Regions from separate parts of the Homo sapiens genome. Here region 2 is linked to region 1. The links come from fine-mapping of genetic effects on gene expression. A gene starts in region 1. The other region holds a variant in brackets. All regions are shown on one strand. Distances are between the middles of the regions. Region 1 holds the start of HIVEP2 (HIVEP zinc finger 2). Region 2 overlaps HIVEP2 (HIVEP zinc finger 2).

What was found. PIP is the estimated chance that this variant, and not a neighbour inherited with it, causes the effect.
Region 2: its variant is fine-mapped to the expression of HIVEP2 in whole blood (INTERVAL, PIP above 0.99).

What each region holds. Positions count from the first base shown.
Region 1 is chr6:142,942,811-142,947,198 of GRCh38, reverse strand. It overlaps HIVEP2 (HIVEP zinc finger 2), which reads left to right and starts at 2,023. Exons shown (of 10, transcript NM_006734.4): 1 at 2,023-2,100. HIVEP2-DT (HIVEP2 divergent transcript) reads right to left here and starts at 710. Exons shown (of 3, transcript XR_001744397.3): 1 at 1-710. RefSeq lists silencers at 524-743, 794-1,423, 1,654-1,883, 2,084-2,183, 2,324-2,393.
Region 2 is chr6:142,909,093-142,913,480 of GRCh38, reverse strand. All of the region lies in intron 1 of HIVEP2 (HIVEP zinc finger 2), which reads left to right. Among named protein-coding and RNA genes, the nearest start is that of HIVEP2, 34 kb to the left of the region's middle. RefSeq lists an enhancer at 601-1,457. The variant TA/A (reference allele first, on the strand shown) is at 2,341.

The sequences.
Region 1 (4,388 bases):
GTCCCTTCCGTGGAGAGGGAAGCGCACAGGCTGAAGGTGGCAGCTCGCCCCGAGGTTCCAGCGCGGCCCACCAGGAAACCGGCAGCTGCTCTTCGCGCCGCTGCCCACACCTATTTGAATCCCCTGGCGAGGGCGGGCCGCGGTCCCCGAACTGGGGGTGCCGGGGGCACCCTGGTGAGTGACCTCAGGGAAGGTAATCCGGGCGTTTCGAGCACGTGAATAGTTCGCGCGCCCGCAGGGGCACGGAAAGTGCTAGTAAAACCCTACAAAGCTCCAGAAACCCAGCCGGGAGCCACAGTCTGATTTTGCTTTTCTTGACCGATAACATAATTGTGAGTAGAGGCAGGGGGCGAGGAGAGGCCAGGGATCCGGAGTACTGGTTCCAAATCTAAGGGCACTACTAATTATACAATTCCGTTCGTCAGGAAGGCAGACAACGATTCTCTGGGAAATGGGGAAGGGGTGGGGACGGAGGACGTTTCCACATCCTTAAAGGAAATTCTCAGGCTCCTAGAGATGCCCAAGTTTTTTTGCATGACAAGTAGAGACCAGCTCTCCGGGGAGTTCCCCGCTCCGACCGAGCGAGTGCGCGGCCGCGATCTCCCCGCCCGCAGCGGCAGCCGTGGGGCCCGGCCCTGCCCTCCCGACCGCCTCCCTCCCCCGTCGCCCCGCGCGCCGCACATCCCTCTCTCGCTCACTGGCTCCAGACTGGTTTTTCTGGTTCAGCCTCCCTCCCTGGGACGCGCTGGGGGATCCGATGACGTCGTTGGCTGAGTCTCTCCCTCTTCCTCCCTCCCTCCCTCCGCCTCTCCCCCCGTCCGCCCTCGCCGCGCACTCCTCCTAGTAACTTCTGTTCGGGGAGGCGCTGCCAGGAATAACCCGGTGCGTCCACAGCCCGGGAGGGGAGGCGGCCGCTGCGGCTCCCGCACGCAGACAGCTGCGGCCCGGGCCTCGCGGCTCCCGCCTGAGCCCGGCGGCCCCTGCCCCGGGCCCATCTCCGTACAGTGTCAGAAAAATAAATAAAGGCAAGAGGAGCCTGGGCTGGCGGTCGGGATCTTTTCCCTCCCTCCGCGCCCGCCCTCCCTCTGTCCTTAAGGAAATGCTACCAGACACCCCCCACCAGACACGCTCAGCCTTGGCGAGGAGCGGCCGCCGCGGCAGCGAGAACAAGGGCACCAGGGGGGTTTCCTCCCCCTCCTCCTCTCCCTCCTCCTCCCCGTCCTCCTTCTCCTCCTCCTCAGCGGTGACTTTCCAGGTGAGCGGCCGCCGCGGCTGCGAGGATCCCCCTCGCCCGCTGGGGCTCGGGCCGCCGCGTCGCGCCCTCCTCCCGCCCCTGTCACCCGGCGGCGGCCGGGAGCTGACAGCCGCCCGAGGGGCTCGCGGCCCGGAGGCGGGCGGCCGGCGGGAGGCGGGCTGGAGGTGAGGGGGTGGAGAGGAGGAGAGCGGGGCGCCGCCGAGCGCCGTCGTTCCCCGCAGGAGGGTCTCCGCACAAACATCTTCGGTGACTGTGGCACAAGTCTTTGCCAAGTTGTGTCTTGGACCTTGACGCTCCACGGAGCCCAGAGCAACTTGGAGGGTCTCCCGGCTCGTTCACAGCGTTCCTCCACGTCTCGCGTCTGGGGTGCTGGGTGCAGCCTCGGGGTGCGCGGAGGGCGGACCGGCCACCGCGAGAGCGGAGCGGCGGGAATCTAGGTCCCTCCTCGGCTCGGTAAGTGGCCTGGACGCTGGGTTTTTCCTGCCTCCTTCGGCGCTGGGAGCTTGTTTCACTTTATATTGGAATCGCCGCCGCCGAACTCCGTCCCCCGCTCCCCGGCGTGTGCCCCCAGCCCCTTCCCGGTGGCCCGAGGGTGAGGGTCGGAGGGGGCGGGGATGGGGGAGACCGCGGGAGGGGTGTCGGGCGCGTGGGGAAATGCGGGGAATACCCTGGCCGCGGATCTATGCAGATGAGGGGAGGCTGCTTTGCGTAATGTCCTGGGGGGAGGGGGCCGCGCGGGAGCGCTGGAGGCAGGAATGTGCCTGCTTACTAATGAGCGACGTGCACCGGCGCGCACGGCCCGGCCACCGCTGCGGCTGCGGCGGCCGGCGGCGGCCCGTTGTCAGGTAGCGGGGGAGGGGGCCGCGGCGCGCGGCGCAGGCGGCCGGGCGGGCTGGCGGCGCGAGGCCCGGGCCGCCGGCCTGCGGCCGAGCGAGCGCAGCGAAGGCGCTGGCTCTGGGCATTTCAGTGACTCCCTTTACCTCCCGGGCAAGGAAGGAAGGAAGGAAGGAGCGAAGGAAGGAAGCGAGGAAGGAGGGGACTGTCTCGATGGAAGGTTCAGGCGGAGGCGCCCTCGCCTTGCGGGTGCACCGGCTGCAGAGCGGCTCTGGCCGCTGCCGGCTGGACCCGGGCGCGTGGAGACGGGTGGGGGCGGTTTGCATGCGTGTTTGTCTGTCCGTCTGGCGGGGGATCGGGAAGGGACATGTGTGTTTGGGCTGTGCACTGTGGGGAACTGGGTCTGCGCCTTTATGTCTGTTCCCTGAAGTGGGTGGAACGTTGGCCCGTTCCGGGAATGTTCCATGACGTGGTGCAGCCACAGGAAGGGGGTTAACGAGGGGCTCTCTGCCGCGGCGGCACTGCCGGCTGCTATCAAAGCAGATGTGCTGCTGCTGCTCCTCCTCCTCTTTCACCTCCTTTCACCCCCACCCCCCGCCTTTCCATTCTGTGCCTCTGGTACTGGTAGGGGTGAGACAGGAAAACATTGCTCTGGGTGTGTGCGTGTGTGTGTGTGTGTGTGGGTGTGTGGGGGAGGGGGTGCTGATGTGCATGTGTGGGGTCTGTCGTATTTGGTGGGGGGGGGGGGTGGACTCCAGATCCGCTCTGCTACCCCAGCTGTTATCACAGATCGGTGCGCTTTATACGCATGTGCCTCCCGCGTTCTGTCCCTCTTACATAACACATCCAGTGCAGCAGAGGACATGAGAAAATGCGACCCCAACCCTCCAAGCCCAAATTGGGTGAGGGGATAGAAGGTCAGGAAGCGTCCCTGGGTGTTGTCCTTCAGGGACTTGGTTCCCAGTGGGGGAAAGGAAGAAGGGAAGGAGGGTTTCTTCAAGTGGCTCCTCTCATCTCTGACTTAAAAGCATCTAACTAAAAAGGACTGCAGGCACTAGTCTTCCCTAACGGGAAAGCTTGTAACTAGCTACACCAAGGGAACGGGGGCACTTTAACCTCGGGAGTGCGGAGAAGAGAGAGGGTCCTTAATCAAGACACTTGGAGGAGAGAAGCAATAATGTGTGGGCGGCGGATGGGGGGCGCTGGGGATGACTTCGAGGAGACCAGAGGAATCTCTTGATAATAGGTTTCACTGGAGGCCTTAGGACACCTGTAATGGCTTAGCATTCACACAGGAAGTTGTGTGTGCAACTGACATTGCAAAACCCTTATTCTCTGCAGAGTTATTTAGGCCTAAAATGAATATAGAAAGGCTTGTTTCCTGTACTTTCATTATAATGGAAAATTTGAGCTGATTTTTCTCCTTCCTTTTCTGCCATTTTAAAAATAACTCAATTTACCTCCAAATGAATATTGGTACTCGCCCCCAACCCTAAAGCTGGACCTCAATAATTCACAAGAGATCTGTGTTTTTCTAGCATACCCAGAGCCCTAGTCAAGGGCTATTGATTTTTCTCCTCAATACAGTTGTTTCTTTTGTAGTGCATAATCAAGCCCAGACATTACTTGAAATATTAATAAGATCCATTTTAATTAAATTTGCAATGATCTGTCCTCCTAGAAAAAGGCCATTTAACTTTATTAGAAACGTTTCCTCCAGTGATATAGTAATATTTGGTGATATTTGCCCTTGAGCAAACCAAGTTATTTTAAATATTTGCACATATAGATCCCATATGTTTGCTACATATGTAGCAAATGTCTCATTGCTTTTTCACCTTATAAGAGTGCCAGAAGCAGAATTTTAACGAAGTAGACTGTGGAATGAGTAGATTGGGTTTGATTTTTAGGATATAGGCCAAATGGTTTATCAGAACAGAAATGTCCTTTCTGTGACTAAAGTGGGTATCATTTTCATTATTAAGAGAAAATTCCCTGTGGAACCCTAAGGAGTCATAGTACCAAATGACAACTGTACATTTGCATTGTGAGCTGAAAGGGATTTACCAGTATTTACTTAATGATAGTGTGTTTGTTTCAAGTGTCATAATCCCTTTGACCACTAGGTTTGAAATATGCAGTATATTTCTTATATACAGAAATGTATTACAATGATGAATCTTTTGAACATTGAGACAATTTCTTGCGTCGAGCATAGGTCGGGTATAAAACAAAATTTGCTTATTTGCATCTGTATTTTTGTTACAGTGACTGTATTTTATGTGGCTAACTTTATTAG
Region 2 (4,388 bases), 34 kb after region 1:
AAGCAGTGAGCAGTGAAGTACCAGTGTGATAACTCTTCAATCCTTTTTAGTATTTTCTGTCTTCATGGGGACAGCCAGTGTGCCCTGATCCATGGGTTTTCCCCCTCAAACTGGTTTATTGAAAAAATCAGATATTGTTCATACTTCAGGTACTTTGAAACTATCCAAATGATAGCATGAAGGAAATGTACGTTTTTCGTGTTTCAGAAGTCGTCAGAGTGAAAGTAGAAGTTCTCATTAGCATCCCAAGGCTTGAGTTTTTGAAGATGTTGTAACAGCATGAGTAAGAAATGAATTGATACAACTTTTTGACAAGCTCATCCTAAGCTAAGCAGTTCGGTTCCCATAGGTCACCATGAGTCCTGGTTTTGTCTCCCTGCTGTGGTAAGGGGCCATCCTCTGTGTGCTGGCTGATGACAGTCTTAGTCTCCTCGTCTGTAAATTGGGGATAACAATACCTCCAATACAGCCCAGTGCTTTTCTGATTTATGTCTGCTAAGTACATTTTCATACCCACTTCTAAAATCATTTGATTTTTTCTTCTCCTTATAAATGTGCAGCACAAGCAATAATTCCACCTAAGCATCTACCTCGTAGGAATGATCACAAAACCTTACCATTCTTTAAACTCACAGTCTCCAACCTTTTTGGCACCAGGAACCAGTTTCATGGAGGAGAATTTTTCCATGGTGTGGGGATGGTGGATGGTTTCCGGATGAAACAGTTCCACCTCAGATCATCAGACATTAGATTGTCATAAGGAGCATGCAACCTAGATCCCTCGCATGCGCGGTTCACAGTCGGTTTCACGCTCCTATGAGAATCTAATGCTACCGCTGCTCTGATAGGAGGTGGAGCTCAGGCAGTAATGCTCGCTTGCCCACCACTCACCTGGTGCTGTGCGACGCGGTTCCTAAAAGGCCATGGACCATTACTGGTAACTGAACATGACCCACTGGCCTTGAGAAGCTGACTGTAGAGGAGATGGATGTGCACGTAGCTATCAAGCCAGGATGAAAACAGCCACGAGAAGAGAGGTGTGATGAGGAGAAGGGGGAAGGGATTTCTGAGGAGAAATATATGAATTCTACTAGAGGGGCTTGAGAAGCCTTAGTGGGAGGGACAAAAGTTCGATCACTGTTATTAGCATGTGTTTGGAACTAGATGTAAATAACAATGGTTGTATACACTGAGGCCTGAAGTTGTCTTTTCAGAAAGACTGACACTCTGGAGCAGTGCTCTCCAATTGAACTGCATTGGCCAATATGGTAGCCACTAAACACAAGTGGCTTTGGGGTACTTGAAATGTGGCCGTGCAGCTGAGGAACTAATTTTTAAATTTTATTTAATGCTAATTTTATATTTAAACCTAAGCAGCCACATATGGCTAGTGCCTACCATACTGGATAGCACAGCCAGAGGAAACCTGCTGTCACTAACCCAGTATGGAGATTTCAGATAATTATCTTGATCACAAATCAAATCACAAAGTCAGAGACTTTGATTGGCTTTTGCTTTTCAGTATCATTAGCCATAAGTACTAGCACTGAAACATCCATTAGACACTAAAATACAGTAACTCATTAATTATGAAATGATGAGCGGTCAGTTAAATTAGTCAGTGATACCCTCGACACACACACTCATGCATAGATCTACATGCATGCACACATATCATGCACACATACGCATCACAGACACACAAACACTCACACACATTTCCCCTGATTGTTTCTTGAACTGGACAGAGGGAGAAATATGTTTTTGAATGGCTTGTTGTCTCATTTCTGAGACAGTGAATTAATGATCCTTCTCCTGGGAGCAGTGTCAGGCTGAGCAAAGAGTCCCTGATGGAAGGAAAGGACCAGCTTTGTCCTATAATAAGAACCCTGCAAAAAAGGGTCTCAGATGATTCTTAGTCTCCTCGTCTGTAAATCTGGGGATAACAATACCTCCTCTGTCTGCCTCAAAAGATAATATATGTTTATAAAACCTTCTTTTCAGGGAGGTTTTCCCAAACCAATATCTCATCTTTTTAATAAGCCTGCAGGACACTTCTCTTTCTGTGTTGACTATGGTACCAAGAGATATGATTATACATATTTTCTCCTTGATCTTAAATGCCCTATGGCAATCATCACACCTTTTTAGAGACCCACTTGAAAATTGCTATGTTTAAATTCTGCCCCAAACTTGTTTTAGAATTCTTCCTTTCTGAATCCCAACTGTATTCTGTTCAGTCCTAGGCTCTGCCCCTCTCAGCACGTTTGTCCTCTATTCACTGGGCTCCCCTGAAATGTTGTTTGTGCTTATTTTTAAGTTTTTTTTTTTTTTTTTTTT[TA/A]ATGTGTTTGTGCTTTGTCTTCCATATTAAAGTGGAAACTCTCTGGGTAGAGGTGACCTTTAAACTTTATTGTCTTGAACTTTTTAAACTTAATTTTATCCAGTGCATTGCAGAGGGTGGCATTCATTAAATTTTGCAGACTGGTAGTAAAATAGAGGACTTGAGTCTTTAGGGCTCAGACTGACATTTTCAATGTGTACTCTTTGGTTATTTAGATCAGTGGATTCAAGCTGTATCATGCACGATGGTCTTTCAAGGAGCGTTAAAAAATTCAGGCCCCCATGCTCTACGCATGTGATTCACTAGGTCTGAGGTGAGGCACAGGGAACCTTAATGTTAAGAGGTAAATTAGGTAATTCTGCTGCCGGTGATCTGAGAACTACTCTTTGAGAAACAGTGGTTTATATATTAAGATACCATTTCTATGGACTGTACTTAAAGAAGACTTTTCTGGCAGTAGGGATCTTGCTTCTAAGCAGAAGTGTAGGTTTGTTGTTGTTGTTGTTGTTTTGTTTTGTTTATCTTTATTTTTATTTTTTGAGACGTAGTCTCGCTGTGTCACCAGGCTGGATTGCAGTGGCACAATCTTGGCTCACTGCAACCTCTGCCTGCCGGGTTCAAACAATTCTCCTGCCTCAGCCTCTCATATAGCTGGGACTACAGGCATGCGCCACCACACCCAGCTAATTTTTGTGTTTTTTAGTAGAGATGGGGTTTCACCATGTTGGCCAGGATGGTCTCAATCTCTTGACCTCGTGATCTGCCTGCCTCAGCCTCCCAAAGTGCTGGGATTACAGGCGCAAGCCACCATGCCTGGCCTGTTTTGTTTATTTTAGAAGAGAATGAGAGAAGAGTGGGAAATTTTGTTGGTAAAACATTTCTTTAAATTATCTTCTTAAATGGGTGGCATGGTCAGTTGGGTAATAGAAATATCTCATCAGAAAGAAACGGATAATGCATGAAATGATTTTATCAAACTGCAATGGTAGAAAATACCTATTCAGCCTTCACTCAGAGCTTGTTTGTCCTTATTTTAGGCTTAGTTTTAATAGGCTTGATGATCTGATTGGCTAGAGATTAGGAGCAGTATATGGAAGTCAAACATTGTCACTGGTAAAGGATGGCATGTTGACTGCAAATGTAATCACTGACAGCCTGAAAGTGAAGAAGGAAATAGATAAACTATAAAAATCAGAAGCAAGATCTTAAAGATCAAAATATAGGCCACTGGAGGAAACAAGAGTGCAGGGGTAAGCAAATGTAAGCATCTCAGTAGCTTCAGAAGCTGTTACTGTGTTTCCCCCAATTTACAGTAGCTATTTTTTGATCTTTCTACTCAGAATCTAAGTTCTACTAGGGCTGAGACCATGCCTGCCCCATATGATACTGTTATCTCCAGGACTTAATGTTGTACTTGACTCATAGAAGAGGCTCCCTAAGTATTTTCCTAGTAAATGGAAATAAATAAATGAGTAGGTTTGCTATGGTGATCTATGTTTATGATAATGACCCTGAGATATTTCTGATTAAAAACAGAGGCAGTTGGTTTTTTTGCATTTTAGATATATGTAATCTCAAAAAATGTTGGTGTATAAAGCCTTATTAAACATGCTTAATATATATTCATTCATTCCTCAGTGACCTCCTCTCTAACACTGCTGCACTCTCCCCTGCCTAGTTTATATTTAAATTGTCTTAAAATCATGGGATTTAATTTTCAGATTATAAATACTCATATATGTAGATATATACTAAAATATTTTGAATCATCTGCCAATGTATACTATACCATTGCTATGTAAACACAGCATCTTTTAAGGTCTTGAAAAATGTTCAGATAGATTTTTGTCTATAGATAGTAGAAATCTGTGTATACCAATTTGAAGCTATCTCTTTCTGTATAGCTAATGCTTTTATAGTTAATTGTTCTTTAATAGATCATAATGATTTCCTTGGGTCATGATATATTTATTAAAATAGGTATTTCAGCATGCATTCTAATTAAGAAAATGCATGTTATGTGTTAGGCAGACACACAGGCTCCATA